Linked DNA regions of Homo sapiens: region 2 is linked to region 1. Evidence: fine-mapped expression QTL. Tissue or cell type: whole blood. Region 1 holds a variant in brackets; the other region holds the start of a gene. All regions are shown on one strand. Distances are between the middles of the regions.

The links. PIP is the estimated chance that this variant, and not a neighbour inherited with it, causes the effect. A credible set is the group of variants that fine-mapping cannot tell apart.
Region 2: it holds the start of MLF1, and the variant in region 1 is the best candidate, but not a certain one, in a credible set for the expression of MLF1 in whole blood (INTERVAL, PIP 0.76).

The regions. Positions count from the first base shown.
Region 1 is chr3:158,638,058-158,642,452 of GRCh38, reverse strand. No RefSeq gene overlaps it. Among named protein-coding and RNA genes, the nearest start is that of GFM1, 4.3 kb to the left of the region's middle. The variant G/C (reference allele first, on the strand shown) is at 1,576.
Region 2 is chr3:158,568,933-158,573,327 of GRCh38, reverse strand. It overlaps MLF1 (myeloid leukemia factor 1), which reads right to left and starts at 2,134. Exons shown (of 8, transcript NM_001369783.1): 1 at 1,981-2,134. The coding sequence starts at 2,027. It overlaps MLF1-DT (MLF1 divergent transcript), which reads left to right and starts at 2,262. Exons shown (of 5, transcript NR_104147.1): 1 at 2,262-3,157.

The DNA of each region.
Region 1 (4,395 bases):
TCCTGTCAGATTAGCAGTGGCATTAGATTCTCATGGGAGTGTGAACCCCCTTGTGAACTATCCATTCAAGGGATCTGGGTTACGCACTCCTTATGAGAATCTAATGCCTGATGACCTGAGGTGGAGCTAAGGTGTGGCCGCTAGGGCTGGGGAACAGCTGCAAATACAGATTAACATTAGCAAAGAGGTTTGACTGCACAGAGACCATAATAAATCAATTGCTTGCAGATTCATATCAAAACCCTGTCAGTGAGTGTCAAGTGACAAAAGCTGCACTGGTGGCAAGCTTTATAGTGGCAAGTGAGTTGATGTATTTCAGTTGTACAGTTGCATCTGATGGCAGGCTTTAAAGTCTTGCGTGGCCCGCCCATTATTTTATTTACCACTTCCGTCCGCGCTTCCTTCCCACACTGAGCACTTGCCTCAGTCACAGTTTTGGTAAGCCCACAACCTAACTCTAGCCAAAACGAGTAAAAAACAAATGTCACTGGAGAGCTTCTTTGAAAATGGGGAAAGACCCAATGATGAGAAAATGGAAAACTCTAAGACTGCTAATAAAAGGAAAGCTGCATGTGAAAGAAAATACCTAGAGTCCTACTTAAATTGCAGGTTCACTGCAACAGGTGATTCACATTCTCCAAGCCTGCTTTATATAATATGTGGCAAGCGGCTATCCAACAAACCCATGAAACCTTCAAAACTGCTTCGCCACATGGAGACCAAGCACCCTACATAAAAAGAGAAGCCTTTGGAGTTTTTCAAAAGAAAAAATGTGGACACGAAGAACAGAAGCAATTATTGAAGGCCGCCACTTCCATCAAATGTGTCTGCATTGACAGTGTCATTCTTAGTGGCTAACAGCATTGCTAAGCTAAGAAGCTCTTTACTACTGGAGAATTGAACCTGCCTGCTGCTAAGGACATTTGTCATGAACTTTTAGGAGATGCTGCAGTTCAAAAGGTGGCACGTGTGCCTCTTTGGGCTAGCACCATAATTAGAGGAAATGATGAAATAGCAGAGGATATCGAGGCACAATTACTAGAAAGGATTAATGGGGCTGGGTGCAGTGGCTCATGCCTATAATCCCAGCACTTTGGGAGGCCGAGGCGGGCGCATCACAAGGTCAGGAGTTCAAGACCAGCCTGACCAACATGGTAAAACCCCATCTCTACTAAAAATACAAAAATCTGCCAGGCATGGTGGCATGCGCCTGTAATCCCAGCTACTCAGGAGGCTGAGGCAGGAGAATCACTTGAACCCGTGAGGCGGAGGTTGCAGTGAGCCAAGATCATGCCACTGCACTCCAGCTTGGGTGACAGATCGAGACTCAATCTCAAAAAAAAAAAAGAAAAGAAAGGATTAATGGGTCACTCTGGTACAAAATCCAGGTTGATTAATTTACTGAGGTTGACAACAAGTCAACAATGCTTGTTTTTGTGTGATTTTTCAGGTGGATGTGCATGAGGATATGTTATGTGCACTTTTGTTGCCAACCAACACCACAGCGGCAGAACTAGTCAAGTCTTTGAATGATTACATAGCAAAACTGAATTGGTTATTTTGTGTCAGTTTATG[G/C]ACCGACAGAGCAGCTGCCATGACTGGACAGCTTTCTGGTTTCACTATTCGGGTCAAAGAGGTTGCTTCTGAATGTGAGTCTACACACTGAGTCGTCCATAGAGAAATGCTAGCTAGCCAGAAAGTATCAAATGAACTTAACGTTTTGCAGGATGTGATTAAAATTATCAACCACATTAAAGTACGTGCCCTTAACTCACATCTGTTCACACAGCTCCGTGAGGAGATGCACACAGAGCACACACACCTTCTTATACACAGAAATGAGATAGCTTTTTAAAGGTGGATCACTGGCCAGAGTTTCTGAGTTATGAGAGTCATTCCACAGATTTCTTTTTTTTTTTTTAATTATACTTTAAGTTTTAGGGTACATGTGCACATTGTGCAGGTTAGTTACATATGTATACATGTGCCATGCTGGTGCGCTGCACCCACTAACTCGTCATCTAGCATTAGGTATATCTCCCAATGCTACCCCTCCCCCCTCCCCCCACCCCACCACAGTCCCCAGAGTGTGATATTCCCCTTCCTGTGACCATGTGATCTCATTGTTCAATTCCCACCTATGAGTGAGAATATGCGGTGTTTGGTTTTTTGTTCTTGCGATAGTTTACTGAGAATGATGGTTTCCAATTTCATCCATGTCCCTACAAAGGACATGAACTCATCATTTTTTATGGTTGCATAGTATTCCATGGTGTATATGTGCCACATTTTCTTAATCCAGTCTATCATTGTTGGACATTTGGGTTGGTTCCAAGTCTTTGCTATTGTGAATAATGCCGCAATAAACATACGTGTGCATGTGTCTTTATAGCAGCATGATTTATAGTCATTTGGGTATATACCCAGTAATGGGATGGCTGGGTCAAATGGTATTTCTAGTTCTAGATACCTGAGGAATCGCCACACTGACTTCCACAATGGTTGAACTAGTTTACAGTCCCACCAACAGTGTAAAAGTGTTCCTATTTCTCCACATCCTTTCCAGCACCTGTTGTTTCCTGACTTTTTAATGACTGCCATTCTAACTGGTGTGAGATGGTATCTCATAGTGGTTTTGATTTGCATTTCTCTGATGGCCAGTGATGATGAGCATTTTTTCATGTATTTTTTGGCTGCATAAATGTCTTCTTTTGAGAAGTGTCTGTTCATGTCCTTCGCCCACTTTTTGATGGGGTTGTTTGTTTTTTTCTTGTAAATTTGTTTGAGTTCATTGTAGATTCTGGATATTAGCCCTTTGTCAGATGAGTAGGTTGCGAAAATTTTCTCCCATGTTGTAGGTTGCCTGTTCACTCTGATGGTAGTTTCTTTTGCTGTGCAGAAGCTCTTTAGTTTAATTAGGTCCCATTTGTCAATTTTGGCTTTTGTTGCCATTGCTTTTGGTGTTTTGGACATGAAGTCCTTGCCCACGCCTATGTCCTGAATGGTAATGCCTAGGTTTTCTTCTAGGGTTTTTATGGTTTTAGGTCTAACGTTTAAATCTTTAATCCATCTTGAATTGATTTTTGTATAAGGTGTAAGGAAGGGATCCAGTTTCAGCTTTCTACATATGGCTAGCCAGTTTTCCCAACACCATTTATTAAATAGGGAATCCTTTCCCCATTGCTTGTTTTTCTCAGGTTTGTCAAAGATCAGATAGTTGTAGGTATGCGGCGTTATTTCTGAGGGCTCTGTTCTGTTCCATTGATCTATATCTCTGTTTTGGTACCAGTACCATGCTGTTTTGGTTACTGTAGCCTTGTAGTATAGTTTGAAGTCAGGTAGTGTGATGCCTCCAGCTTTGTTCTTTTGGCTTAGGATTGACTTGGCGATGCGGGCTCTTTTTTGGTTCCATATGAACTTTAAAGTAGTTTTTTCCAATTCTGTGAAGAAAGTCATTGGTAGCTTGATGGGGATGGCACTGAATCTGTAAATTACCTTGGGCAGTATGGCCATTTTCATGATATTGATTCTTCCTACCCATGAGCATGGAATGTTCTTCCATTTGTTTGTATCCTCTTTTATTTCCTTGAGCAGTGGTTTGTAGTTCTCCTTGAAGAGGTCCTTCACATCCCTTGTAAGTTGGATTCCTAGGTATTTTATTCTCTTTGAAGCAATTGTGAATGGGAGTTCACTCATGATTTGGCTCTCTGTTTGTCTGTTGTTGGTGTATAAGAATGCTTGTGATTTTTGTACATTGATTTTGTATCCTGAGACTTTGCTGAAGTTGCTTATCAGCTTAAGGAGATTTTGGGCTGAGACAATGGGGTTTTCTAGATAAACAATCATGTCGTCTGCAAACAGGGACAATTTGACTTCCTCTTTTCCTAATTGAATACCCTTTATTTCCTTCTCCTGCCTGATTGCCCTGGCCAGAACGTCCAACACTATGTTGAATAGGAGCGGTGAGAGAGGGCATCCCTGTCTTGTGCCAGTTTTCAAAGGGAATGCTTCCAGTTTTTGCCCATTCAGTATGATATTGGCTGTGGGTTTGTCATAGATAGCTCTTATTATTTTGAAATACGTCCCATCAATACCTAATTTATTGAGAGTTTTTAGCATGAAGGGTTGTTGAATTTTGTCAAAGGCTTTTTCTGCATCTATTGAGATAATCATGTGGTTTTTGTCTTTGGCTCTGTTTATATGCTGGATTACATTTATTGATTTGCGTATATTGAACCAGCCTTGCATCCCAGGGATGAAGCCCACTTGATCATGGTGGATAAGCTTTTTGATGTGCTGCTGGATTTGGTTTGCCAGTATTTTATTGAGGATTTTTGCATCAATGTTCATCAAGGATATTGGTCTAAAATTCTCTTTTTTGGTTGTGTCTCTGCC
Region 2 (4,395 bases), 69 kb after region 1:
AGCGGAGTCCCTTCACAAACAAGGTTAGCTCTGTAACAAAGCGAGCAAAGAAAACAGCGCAATTGGCATGGCAACTTCCAACAACTTCGAAGAGAAAGCACAACTCTCCAACTTTGTCGTGCTCTCATTGACACATTCCCCACTCACATGGAAAATGCTGTTTTAAAAACTTCCCCTTTTCAATGAACTGTCATGCTATAAAATATTACCTGTTCCTATTTGGAATTTAAAGAGGAGCTATAAAATATTCCCTGCTCCCATTTGCAATTATGTGAACATAATTCTCACCATAAGTTTCACCGAGATGGTAGTTATGTCACCTGCAAAGCCCTTGAAGCTGCAAAGGCCAACTCTGCACACAGGAAGCCATGACGGGCACCCAAAGTCCGGCCAAATGGAAAGCAGCAGGCACCCCGGGAGTGTGAGGAAGGGCCTTCTTTCCATCTCATGCAGCCAAATCCTCCTCCCCCTACCTGGGGCCCTCAACTCTCTACCTCACGTCCTCAACCATCCTCCTGCGACCTCACGCCCCCAAACCCTCCTCCCCCCACTGCACGCCATCAACTCTCCTCTGTCCACCTCACACCCTCAACCCTCCTACCCCCACACCTCATGCCCCTAAACCCTCTTCCCCACACCTCATGCCCCCAAACCCTCCTCCCTCCACCTCACGCCCCAACCCTCCCTCGTCCCACTACCTCTCACCCTCAAACCTCTTCCCCCTACCTCACGCCCTCAACCCTCCTCCCACATCATGCTCTCAAGCCCTTCCCACCAACTCACGCCCTCAACCCTTCTCCCCAACCCTCCTCCCACACCTCATGCCCCCAAATCCTCCTCAGCCCCTAAATCCTCCTCCATCCACCTCACACCCTCAACCCTCTTACCGCCACCTCACGCTCCCAAACCATCCCCACCAACTCATGCCCTCAATCCTCCCCTGCACTTCATACTCCCAAACCCTCCCCACCAACTCACGCCCTCAACCCTCGTCCCTGCACTTCAAGCTCTTAACTCTCCCCTGCACCTCATGCTCCCAAACCGTCCCCCCACCTCACGCCCTCAACCCTCCTCCCCCCACCTCGCGGTCCAAAACCCTCCTTCCCCTCACCTCACACCCTCAACCCTCCCCCACACCTCATGCTCCCAAATCCTCCTCCCACCTCACGTCCTCAACCCTCCTCCTACACCTCACACCTTCAACTCTCCCCCACACCTCATGCTCCCAAACCCTCCCCCCACCTCACGCCCTCAACCCTCCTCCAAACGCCTCACACCCCCAAATCCTCCTTCGTCCATCTCACACCCTCAACCCTCCCCCCTCCACCTTACTCCCCCAAACCCTCCTCCTCCCACCCCACGCTCCCAAACCCTCCCCCCACCTCACAGCCTCAACCCTCCTCCCCCCACCTCACGCTTTCAAACCCTTCCCCCACCTCACGCCCTCAACCCTTCCCCTCACCTCACGCCCTCAACCCTTCCCCTCACCTCACGCCCTCAACCCTTCCCCTCACCTCACACCCTCAACCCTTCCCCTCACCTCACGCCCTCAACCCTCCTCCCTCCCACCTCATGCTCCCAAACCCTTCCCTCACCTCACGCCCTCAACCTCTTCTCCCCACCTCATGCCCTCAATTCTCCTCCCCCCACCTCCCGGCCTCAACTCTTCTCCCCCCACTCCCAGCCTTAACTCTCCTCCCCACACCTCACGCCCCCAAACTTCCCTCCGCCTACCTCACGCGTCCAAACCCTCCTCTCTCCACCTCATGCGCCCAAATCCGTCTCTTCCCTGTCTCACACACCCCTAAATCCTCCTCTCTCTTCCCTCCCAGGCCTCCAAATCCTCGTCTCCTTCAAACCGCCTCCAGAGTTACTCCGAATTCTCTCTCGCCCTCTAAAACTCGCTCTTTTCCCTTAAAATAGCTCCCCTCGATACCTTAATTCCCGCGCGACCCCGGACTCCTGGCTCCCGTAACTCACGAGAAGAAGGGGTCATCCTCAAAACTGCTGTTCAGCATCCTGAACATTCTGGCTCTGTCTTGGGTGGCGGCAGCCGCGGACAGATTGGAAAAACGATGTTAACTCGCCGCGGCCGCGACAAGAGCTAGCCTCCAGTACGGACGACGCCTCACTCGCCGCGGCGCAGGCGGTGCCCGCCGGGATAGGAGGTGCGTGACACCGAGCTGCTTTCCCATTGGACATTGCTCTGTGACGTCACCAGGACGAGGCGGGGAGCAATGCGCCGCTGCCCTGGCAACCGCAATCAACACAGTGGAGGCGAGAAGTCTGGCCTTGCGCCGGCCGGGGAGCTTTTCGCCAAGGCTCCTGTGGGATGGGATAGCTTGTTCTCTGGGCTGCAGGAACCAAAACATTAGACCACCCTTTCTGTGACCTTGGGCATGCCGCCCTCGGTTCCGAGCCGCAAGTCTTTCTTTCGGGGAAAATGAAAAGGGGTCAAGATTTGGACCAGATGACACCCAATGTCCCATTCAACGGTCGCATTCTGTCATCCACAGGAATTAGTCCTGTATCCGAAACATTCTCTGGTAGTCAAAAGCTGTGAGCAAATAATAAGAAAAAATGTGCAAAACGTTTTTTAGTACAGTTAGCAAATAGTGTACTCAGTTGTTGAAGGAAATGGGATGAAGCCTATCAGATTTCAACAAACTTATTTACCTCTTGAGAAAGCTGCTCTCTTTTCGGTTGTCCTTCTGTGTCTCTCTTTCAAAGATCAAGTCTCACTGCGATGCTGATATGTTTTTAACACTTCTCCAGCATTTCTTAACCTAACAGCAGGTTTCAGGCACAGGCCTGCAGCAAGCAGCCATATCCAACTAAAATTCCACTACTATATGTTTTTATTTGCATTACATTTATCAGGGAGCTTTCTATTTATGGCAAGGAAACTGATTTTAAATTTAAATCAGTGATATACATCAAGAGCTAGATTTTGCATTTTTAAGTGAAAAAGTAAGCTATCAAATAGAACAGGTGGAATTTGGATATGGTGGGGCGGAGGGGTAGGCAGAGCAGGGGAGAGGAACATCGTGATAGTGGTACTCAAATTACTAAGTTTTAGAAAACACTATCACGGGGCCTTTCAGGAGCCTGGAGACAGATGGAGGGGAAGACAGAAGAGAGATTAAGGAGAAGAATGGTAAGAGTATAAGAAAAGAGAAAATACATCTTGCATGTCCACCCTTAATTCAGTGAGCTCCCCAGCTTCTCTACGTGGCTGTCTTGCAGAGATAAAGGGGCGTCCATAGCTCATCAGGGCCCCCTGGGATCAGGCCAGAGGGGTGGCACTTTGCCAGCATGAAGAAGTGTGCAAGCCCTGATTTGGAGGTGACAGGAGTAGTCAGGGGTTATTTTGAGAGCTGGAAATTTAATCGTTTGGATCTTTTACTCCCCATCCCCCTTTTTTAGCCAAGTTCTCTGGCAGCTTCCTTCCCCTGAGACTGGTGGCATGGGGTAGGGCAGACTTCACAGCCCAAGATGAGATGGCACAGCCCATCCAGGAAAGAGGATATTTTCTTTTCCTCTGGACTCAGAATAAAGCTCAGAGAACATATACACAAAATTTCGAAAATTTCTAAATAAATTTCAAGGCAAACAAAATTGTTTTATAAGACCTTAAATTGTTTTTCTCTTTAAAATAGTATAAGCACAAGATGTGAAGGAGGCCACACTTAAAAAAAAACTTGAAATGGAGTAAGTTATGTGATAAAAGATGGTGTTAAAATAGTTCTGGATTAAGGCCAAGTAAATTTGTAATGTTACCCTCTAGTTTCTGTGGGAACTTTTTTAGAATCACATTGTTATAAAAGCTTTAGTCCAGGCACAGGTTAGTCAGGGAATTAGCTGAACCTTGTGAAAGCAGTTTGGATCTAATGACAAATGCAAAAAAAAAAAAAAAGGAGGGCAGAGCAGAGTTGGCACTGAAGAGACCTTGACATCATTTTCAGAACTGATGGGTAAGAGGTGGAAATGAAAGAAAGCGTGGGTCAGGAGAGAATGAATACTCCAGCATGGGAGGAATAGAGATGCAGAACAGGACTGAGAGGAGAGGGTCCTGGACTTGGCTGTAAATATAATCATAATAGCTAATATTTATTGAATGTGTGCCAGGCACTGTTGTAGGCACTCCATATGCATTACCTCATTGAATCCTCATTAGCAGTTTTATGGAGTAGAGATGGCTTTTATCCCCATGTATAGATGATGCATTCAAGACACAGAGAAGCTGAATAAATTGCCAAGGTTCACACAGCTAGTAATTGAACTGAGCTGGGTACCTGGAGCTTTCCTCTGTGAGTGCTGGTTATATGGTATGTGAGTGATGAGTCATACTTAAAGATGCAGGATGAAAGCGGGTAATCATTTTTCAAAATCATG